Linked DNA regions of Homo sapiens: region 2 is linked to region 1. The links come from fine-mapping of genetic effects on gene expression. A gene starts in region 1. The other region holds a variant in brackets. All regions are shown on one strand. Distances are between the middles of the regions.

Region 1 (4,395 bases):
GGCTGGAGTGTGGTGGCACCATCATAGCTCACTGCAGCCTCCAACTCCTGGGCTTAAGGTATCCTCCTACCTCAGTCTCCAGGGTTGCTGGGACTACAAGCAGGAGCCAAAGTGCCTGGCAAAAGTATTTTAAATCGGGCCAGGCCTGGTGGCTTACGCCTGTAATCCTAGCACTTTGGGAGGCCAAGGCCGGTGGATCACTTGAGGTCAGGAGTTCCAGACCAGCCTGGCCAACATGGTGAAACCCCGTCTCTACTAAAAATACAAAACTTAACCAGGCATAGTGGTGCCTGTCTGCAATCCCAGCTACTTGGGAGGCTGGGGCAGGAGAATCACTTGAACCTGGGAGGCAGAGGATGCAGTAAGCCAAGATCGCACCACTACACTCCAGCCTGGGCAACACAGTAAGACTCTGTCTCAAAAAAAAAAAATTAAATCCTTAGAAAGATGTATCCTCTGCTGCTGCTCTAGAACTCTAGGTGGAGGCAAAGGTTGCAGCCAGCGGAGATCATGCCACTGCACTCCAGCCTGGGCAACAGAGTGGCACTCCATCTCAAAAAAAAAAAAAAAATCCTTAAAAGTATGTATCCTCTGCTGCTACTCTAGAACTCTAGGTGGAGGCAGATTTCTAAACCAGTTCTTTTGCACAGGAATTACTGGTTTGGGTGGGGCGTGGTGACGCTGCTGTCTCAGAATTAATGTAATCATGCATCTCCACACTCCCTTTTGGACTATATTTTCAAGGCCACTGTCTGCCTGTTGAAGAGACTATCAGTTTGATCCTCACGTATTTTCACAATCAAAATATCTAAGTAAGGAATTATATAAAAGTTGTAGGAATGTGTTTTATATCACTTTTAGTATAGCCACATGGTTAATAACAGCCTCATATTCAGGGTCTGGATTGCAGCAGTGCCATTTACTTCACTGCAAGTGCTAAATGTCCTCATCTTTAAAAGTGGGATAATGATATAGTCTTCATGAAGCTGTGAGGATTAAAGAAGTTAAGGCTGGGTATGGTGGACCACCCCTGTAATCCCAACACTTTGGGAGGCCAAGTTGGGCGGATGGCTTGAGGTCAGGAATTGGAGAGCAGCCTGGGCAACATAGGAGACCCCTGTCTCTACAAAAATATAAAACAAAGGAGTTAATATTTGTAAAGCCTTCAAAACAGTTATTGGCATAGCCAGAACTTTGTGTGTTATTATTTTAAGACCATTGCTCCACAGGACCTGACAGCTTTCAATTTACATGCTTTAAAAAAGCAGAGAAATGAAAACTGTCGATTTTCCCAACGCTCCCTAATTTCACTAGTTGCTTGATGTTTTTCAAAGCATTTAGAACACTGTAAACAGCAAGGAAGGTCATACAGTAAAGAAAGAAAAAGCAACCCCGAGTTCGAGGTGTGCACTCTTCAACTCAAAAATTCGAATGTAACGCTCTCTGGTCATCCCTTGCCATTACACATATTCTTCGAAATGAACTGATTTTTTTTTTTTCCAAGTAAAAGTAATCCTTACACAACCTAAGAAAAAAGCAGAGCATTTTCCTTGACCACTTTGAGATCTGGGTGAGCAGTGGATGTTTAAATGCTGGCATTTCTACAAGGTCGGCAATTAAGAATTCACGAAAACATTAATCACTACGAATTATCAGAAAAACACCAAGAGCGCTACGAGGCCTCGGAGCCTTTACTCCCCCTGGAAGTAACCGGGGAGCACCCAGGGGCAAAGCCGAGGCCCCAAGCGCGGGGAATGCGGCTTTGCCCGACCGCTGGCTCCGCGTCCCTCTCCGGGTGCATAAGTCTTGGCTCCCGCGCCTCTCCCGAGCACTTAGCCTCCCGAGCAGAGAGGGGAACCAGAGGAGCGTCGAAGCCGGGAGAGAAAAGGGGCGGGCGCCGCTCTGGTAAGAAGTTCGGGCCTGGCCCCCAAGCGCCGGCGAACCGGCTATCCGGCGAGCCAGTAATTAGCCCGCTCCGACGGTTGCGCCCGGTGGCCAGACCCGGCGCCCGACACCTGGAGCGAGTGCGCTGGGGCGCCGGACAGGAGAGGCCAGGCTGGCAAAGGCGCGGGAGGCGGGGTCGGAGCGTGGGCGGGGCACCGCGGGGCGGGGCGCGTCGCTCGTTTCCGGTGTGCGCGGCGGAGCGCTAGGGCGGGGGCACAGTCGGCTCCCAATCGCGCACAATGAGACAGCGCTGAGCGCCGGAAGTGGGGCCGAAGGAAAACACGGAGAGGGAGCCCGGCCGGGACAGGAAGAGGCTGGGGACCGCGGCGAAGGTGGTGAGTGCTCTTGGGCGCCTTCTCCCAACGTCCCTGCCAGACTCGCCTCCGGGCTGATTCTCCAGTTGGTTTCCTGGACTCCAGAGTAGCTGTCCGGCCTGGCCCCGGAGGTACGTTGGTTCCATCCCCCGCCGGCCTCCTCGCACCAGTTTGGGTGACCGAGGAACCCCCAGGCCGGCAGAGGCTGAGCCCTCGGGTTCGAGTCCGTGTTTTCACTTTTTGTCAGACTGCGGGCGCAGAAGACGGGATTTGGGTCAAGACATTCGGCTCTGGCCCCCTGGCCGGCCGGGGGAACCCTGGAACCCCATGGAGACAGCAGGTCACTTCCTGCTTCCTGGTCCCCACGGTGGCTTCTTGGCCAGGAGTGCAGGGACGCCTCCTCTTTCTCCACGTCGGGCTCAAAAGGGTGGAAACTAAGGCAGATCGGTGGTGGAGCGGTCAGATGGGGATTGAAGAGGAGTGTCATTCCTCAGGGAATTGCTGTTCCTGACAAAACCAAACTTGTTTGGGGTTGGAGAACGGGGATTGAGGAGGTTAGATGGAGTTGTCCCTTGATCGGAAACCCAGCCTCTTTAATTACAGCTGCACCTTGGTCGGAAGCCCAGCCCCTCCGTAACCTAAGCGCTCAAAGCCGGTCTGTCCAGAATAGGGGTGGTGAAGGGACGGAAAATTGGAGTTGAGAAATGTAGTACTCCTTTCACGTAAAGTTTCGGTGTATAACACTTACAAGTAATTGCCAACTTAAAAAACAAAAGACTGTTTCGGTAGTTTAGTAATAATATTGGCTTGGGATGAGGTTTTCTTTGAAGAGAAACGCCTTGTTACAGAGGGAAAAGCCGACCATACTTGATATGAGTAATATTCTACTATGCTACAGTTCTGGAACCTATAGAGCTTCTCTTATTCACACATTTAATCTTCATGCTAAATAGTAAGTATTAATTTTCATGAAGAATATTAGAGGACCAAGCCTCCCAACCTCTAGGGTAAAGCACTGATTATTAAGAATGTGATAGAATTTTTATTTTAAAAAAATAGGGAGTTTCTTTCTTACAGGCTTTGGGGCATCTGTACGATAAATTGTTATTTTGTATACTTGTATGATATCTTGTTATATAGTTTGATATTTCCCCAAAATACCTTCTTTCAGGTGCAAAGTAAGAAAATTGAAGTCAAAGACCATGGGAGATACAGCAAAACCTTATTTCGTGAAGCGCACTAAAGACCGGGGGACTATGGATGATGATGACTTCAGAAGGGGTCACCCCCAACAAGATTATTTAATAATAGATGACCATGCTAAAGGCCATGGCAGTAAAATGGAAAAGGGCCTTCAAAAAAAGAAGATAACACCAGGGAACTATGGGAATACCCCCAGAAAAGGACCATGTGCTGTTTCCAGCAATCCATATGCATTTAAAAACCCAATCTACAGTCAACCCGCTTGGATGAATGACAGCCACAAAGATCAGAGTAAGAGATGGCTGTCTGATGAACATACTGGTAATTCAGACAACTGGAGAGAATTCAAACCTGGACCTAGAATTCCTGTTATAAACCGACAAAGAAAAGACTCCTTTCAAGAAAATGAAGATGGTTATAGGTGGCAAGACACAAGAGGCTGCAGAACTGTAAGACGACTGTTTCATAAAGACCTAACAAGCCTAGAAACCACGTCAGAAATGGAAGCAGGAAGTCCTGGTAATGTTTTCCAACTTGTCAGATCACAACCCCAGAGTCAGCAATGTTTTATTCTTTTTCATCCAAATGAGTTTTGTTATTTTCAGCAATTTAGTTTCAGTTTTTCACAGTTTCTGTTTTAAGAAATGGTCACTTAGTGTGATTATTTTAAGGATAGTAATCATGATATTTGAGCAGCTAAAACACATTTCATATGTTGATCCCTTTAAAAGTTTACTTTGCCCCAGGGCTCACTTTACGTCAGTAAACATGTTTTCTGTAACGTGTTTTTTACAGAAGAGGGTAGCTATATGCTCCAGGGGACCATATCGTAATTGCTCAGTGGTTTGTGTGTTTTCAAAATTGTGATTATAATTTTGTATTTGAATAATTAATGTGTTCATAATATAAATGACAGAATATAAAGCTTTTTTTA
Region 2 (4,395 bases), 32 kb before region 1:
GTCCAGGGCTAGGAGAGGGACCTCCATCTGTGCACAGCTGATTGATAAGGTGGGAGGCAGCAGTTTCTTGGCCTCTGCTGCAGGGTGAGTCTTTAAAGATGAAGATAGCCTAGAGATGCGTCTGAAAGCCAGAGGATAGCCCCAGCTTTGAGCAGTGATGGGTGATCTACAGGCTCTGTGGAAGTAGCCCTGTGGCCCAAGAATGGACTCAGCTTCCAGATCTAGTGAATTCTCGGAGACGTTTAGAAAAGTCTAACCCTGGGCAAGCCCTGAGGTCCAGTCCATGGTTAGCAAGAAGTCTATAGCATTTGATGAGTGTGGAGAGAAGAGAGCTATTCCCATGGAGACAGTTTGAAAGGCATAGCTGTGGGATCTAAGAAACAGCTGGGAGTTGGGTATTCAATGTCCACAGAAAAAAACATGGCTGAGACTTAGAAGTGGGGAGAGGAGGGAAAGACAGGGTGGCTGGTCTCCATGGCAACAGGAAGGAAAGCAGAACTTCCACCAATCACTTTGGGGGTGAGATTAGTTGAGGGCAAATTGTAAAGCAGGTGACCCATGCCCAGCATGGAATCGGGGGAAGTAGATCACTTAATGGAAACGTAGGATGGTTTCAGCATTGTAAAAATAACAGCAGGGAATGGTCAAAAAGGGAAAGCCAAAATTGGAACTTTCAGGCATACTTGAGATTTATGTGTTCTTGGAAGGAATCCAGGTGTGTCTGGATTCTTTATGGTGCCATGGAAGACAAGTGGCAAAGTAGCCAAGAGATTACCACACCTAGGGTGAAAGGGTGGACCACGCATTCTGAAAGTGGGCCTGAAAGTGCAGGGTGGGTCAAAAGGAGCAAACCACTGGAGATGAACTAAGGCAAGAGAACGTGCCATTAGTTCATGAGTCTTAAACCTCAGGATCAGATATCAACAAGATGGCTAAGGAGAGAGACTGGAAAGACCAGAAAAGCAAGAGAGCTTCCCAACGAACCTATGGATATGTATTTAAGGACTCTTTTTACCAATCATACAATTGTAGCTCATCTCATCCTCAGAGGGCATCCAAGGGGAGTGAAGAAGGAAATCTGAACAATGAGGCATCTATCCAAAAAAGGTGGAACCAGAGAAGACATCATTTAAATTTGAAAAGATTGAGATAAACTAACTGGTAAGTTCAAGATTTGTTTCCATAGTTCCTAGAGGCCAGTAGGGTGCCAGAGCAGGAATAGATCAATTTTAGGGGAGAAAGTACATTCATCTGAGTCAGGTCTTAGGTGTTCAATTTCAGGACATGTGTTGCCTTTACCAGATATTCAACGCTGCAAGAACTGGGACTTTGTTTTCCTCACATAACAGGCACATATCAGGCACTCAACATTTGCTGAATACATAAAATGAATGAATAAATAAATGACTCATTCTAGAATAGCAAATCCTAGGTTTTAATTACTACAAGTATGCTATCTCACTGATTTTCCTAAGATTTAAAAACGTGCTCTGGAAATAATTTTTTTTTTGCTTTACACAACATATCTGGAATAATTTAAACTAAGAGACTCTTTGGCAGGGAGAATCAGGAGATCCTGATAGTTCTTTGCTATTCCTCAAGCCACAGAAGTCAGAAAAGTCCAGTCTAAGCCTAATTTAAAAGAAGGTCTTTGCAAAGACTGTATAAGTAGACCCCAAGGACCCTTAGGAAGGTTGCCTCTTTCCCAATACAGCATTGTAGAGCTTCTCTCTC[C/T]GTCTTCCACCAACCATAGGGCAGAAAAAGGATCCTCTGTCTCCTTTGATATTCTAAAAATGGTTGATGTCTTACTGGAAGTTCTTCTCTGCCCAAACATCAAAATTCTAAACATATTTTTCAATTTTCCCACATATAGCCTGATTTACAGGAAAGCTGAAATATGTTCCAGATCTGGAGACATATTTGATTAATGTAGGTATAATGAACGTTGTTGGCTGCCATCCATTCTCACCTTTCTCCTTCAGGAAAGGACCCAGATTTTATTCAATATCTCACTCTCCCTCATGTAACTCAAGTGCCCTTAAAGCAAGCTGGCCCATGCCCCTAGCTCCAGGGTAGACCTGATGGTCTAAGGCAGTGGTTCTCAACTTAGTGGTGATTTTCTCCCCAGAGATATTCGGCAATACCTAAAATGTGACATTTTTGAGTGTCATAATGTGAGGGGAGGCATCTAGTGGGTAAAGGCCAGAAATGCTGCTAAACATCCTACCATGCACAGGGCAACCCACAACAAAGAATTATCCAACCCAAAAAGAGAATGGTCCTGAGGTAGAGAAACCCTGGTTTAAGGCTTATGGCATCCCCCTTACAAGGGACTGATTTAAGAAGAAGACTTTTGAGTTAGGAAAAGAAACAGCAAGATGCCTGCCAAGAGACACCAAACATTCAGAACCCCACCTCAGCAAGAAAGGACCAAGGCAATAACTACAGAGCTAAGATTTGAATGGAGTGTCAAAGGGAGAGTGCTAGAGTGCAGTGGGTGAGTTAGAGGTACAGCTGTGGTGATTAGAAGTGGAGGAGGACAGCATGGAGGCACCAGGACTCTGTAGCCTCGTTTCCCCAACATGGGTCACATCTGCCTGGAGTCAGAAGAGACTCTGCATTGTAGGGAAAAGTCAAGCAGAAGAGCCCCACCTATCCCCATTGCTGCCACAAACACCTATAAGTCCTTACATCAGAAGAATCTCACAATCCTTGCAAGCCCTGAATCCAGTTTGGAAAGCTGGTGGGAATTCACACAGCTGCATTGCCCCAGATTAGTAGGATAAGGTGTGCACCACCCAACCACTCACCCACTGTGAGCCAAGGTGTTGTAGCACAGCACTGTCTTGAGACCAGAGCCCCCCTCTGGAGTGGACCCTGCTCTGGGGTCCAGTAGCCAATGTGGCTCTCCAGCACTGGGGCTCCATCCTCATTCCACCAAGCCCACATAGGTGGCTGAATGTCACAATCCTAGCTGTACAGAGCATGGTCCCAGGACCGCTGTGACTCTGGTCCTGTGCAACAGGGTAACCAACTCCCCCTACCCTCACCAAACTTCCAGCTGGAGGAACAGTTGGCCAGTACCATCCAGGGAAAATCTACCCTTGAGGTGGCCAAATCACTGCCAGTTACCCTCCCCCAAGCAGGAAAGGCCTCAGAGCCTCCAAAAATCCAATATATCCTTGAGCCAGAGGGATGCCTATGTACATGTGTGTAGAACCTGGCAAAGCTGCACTGCCATCACCACAAACTCTCTCATCATAGGCCACTGAGAAACACAAACACCACTAGTGTGGATTACAACTGAGTAAATTACACAGACTACACTTCTGTATCAACCTCGAACCAAGGCCAATACACACCACACCAAACCAACACTCTAAGGCCCATTCATCTGAACAAGTGTTTTCATACAAAGCCTATTCTGTAAAATACAAAGAGGCTACTTTTCCTTAAGATGCATAGAAATCAACGTAAGGGCACATCAACCATGAAAAAGCAAGGAAACATGTCACATACCAAAGGAAAATAATAATTCTCCAGTAACAGGCCCCAATCATAAGGAAATATATGAAATACCAGAAAAGGATTCAAAATAATAATCTTAAAGAAACTCAGTGAGATATAAGAGAATACAGATAGACAATTCAACAAAATTTGGAAAACAATTTAGTATTTGAATAAGAAATTCAACAAAAAGATATATATCAATAAACAGACCCAAACAGAAATCCTGTAGCCAAAGAATTCAATGAATAAGAGAGCTTCAACAACAAACTAGACTGAGCAGAGGAAAGAATTTCTGAACTGGAAGAAAGGACTTTTGAAATAACACAGGTATGCCAAAAGGAAAAAAATAATAAAAGAATAAAGAAAGCCTACAGGATTTATGCAACACCACTAAGTGAAAAAAATACATATATTGTTGACATTCTAGAAGGAGAAAAGAAGAAAAAAGGTGAGAGAAACATACTTAATGAAATAATATCAGAAAACTTCCCAAGTCTTGAGAATGAGATAGACATCCAGGTTCAAGAAGCTCAAACAACCCCAAATATATTTAATCCAGACAGGTTCTCTCTGATGCACATTATACTCAAATTGTCAAAAGTCAAAAACAAAAAAAAAGAATTTTAAAAGCAACAAGACAAAAGCATCAAGTCAACTATAAGGGAATCTCCACTAGACTAACAGTGAATTTGTTTGCAGAAACCTTTCAGGCCAGGAGAGAACAGGATGATATATTCAAAGTCCTGAAAGATAAACTATTGGCCAAGAATATTGTACACAGCAAAGCTTTCCTTCAAAAATGATGGAGAAATAAAATCTTTCACAGACAATCAAAATCTAAGGGAATTCATCACCACTAGACCAAACTTACAAGGAATGCTCAAG

The links. PIP is the estimated chance that this variant, and not a neighbour inherited with it, causes the effect. A credible set is the group of variants that fine-mapping cannot tell apart.
Region 2: its variant is the best candidate, but not a certain one, in a credible set for the expression of TUT7 in whole blood (TOPMed, PIP 0.89).

The regions. Positions count from the first base shown.
Region 1 is chr9:86,352,265-86,356,659 of GRCh38, reverse strand. It overlaps TUT7 (terminal uridylyl transferase 7), which reads left to right and starts at 2,250. Exons shown (of 27, transcript NM_024617.4): 1 at 2,250-2,389; 2 at 3,430-3,980. The coding sequence starts at 3,461. RefSeq lists a silencer at 1,992-2,171 and an enhancer at 2,192-2,401.
Region 2 is chr9:86,384,123-86,388,517 of GRCh38, reverse strand. No RefSeq gene overlaps it. Among named protein-coding and RNA genes, the nearest start is that of TUT7, 32 kb to the right of the region's middle. The variant C/T (reference allele first, on the strand shown) is at 1,735.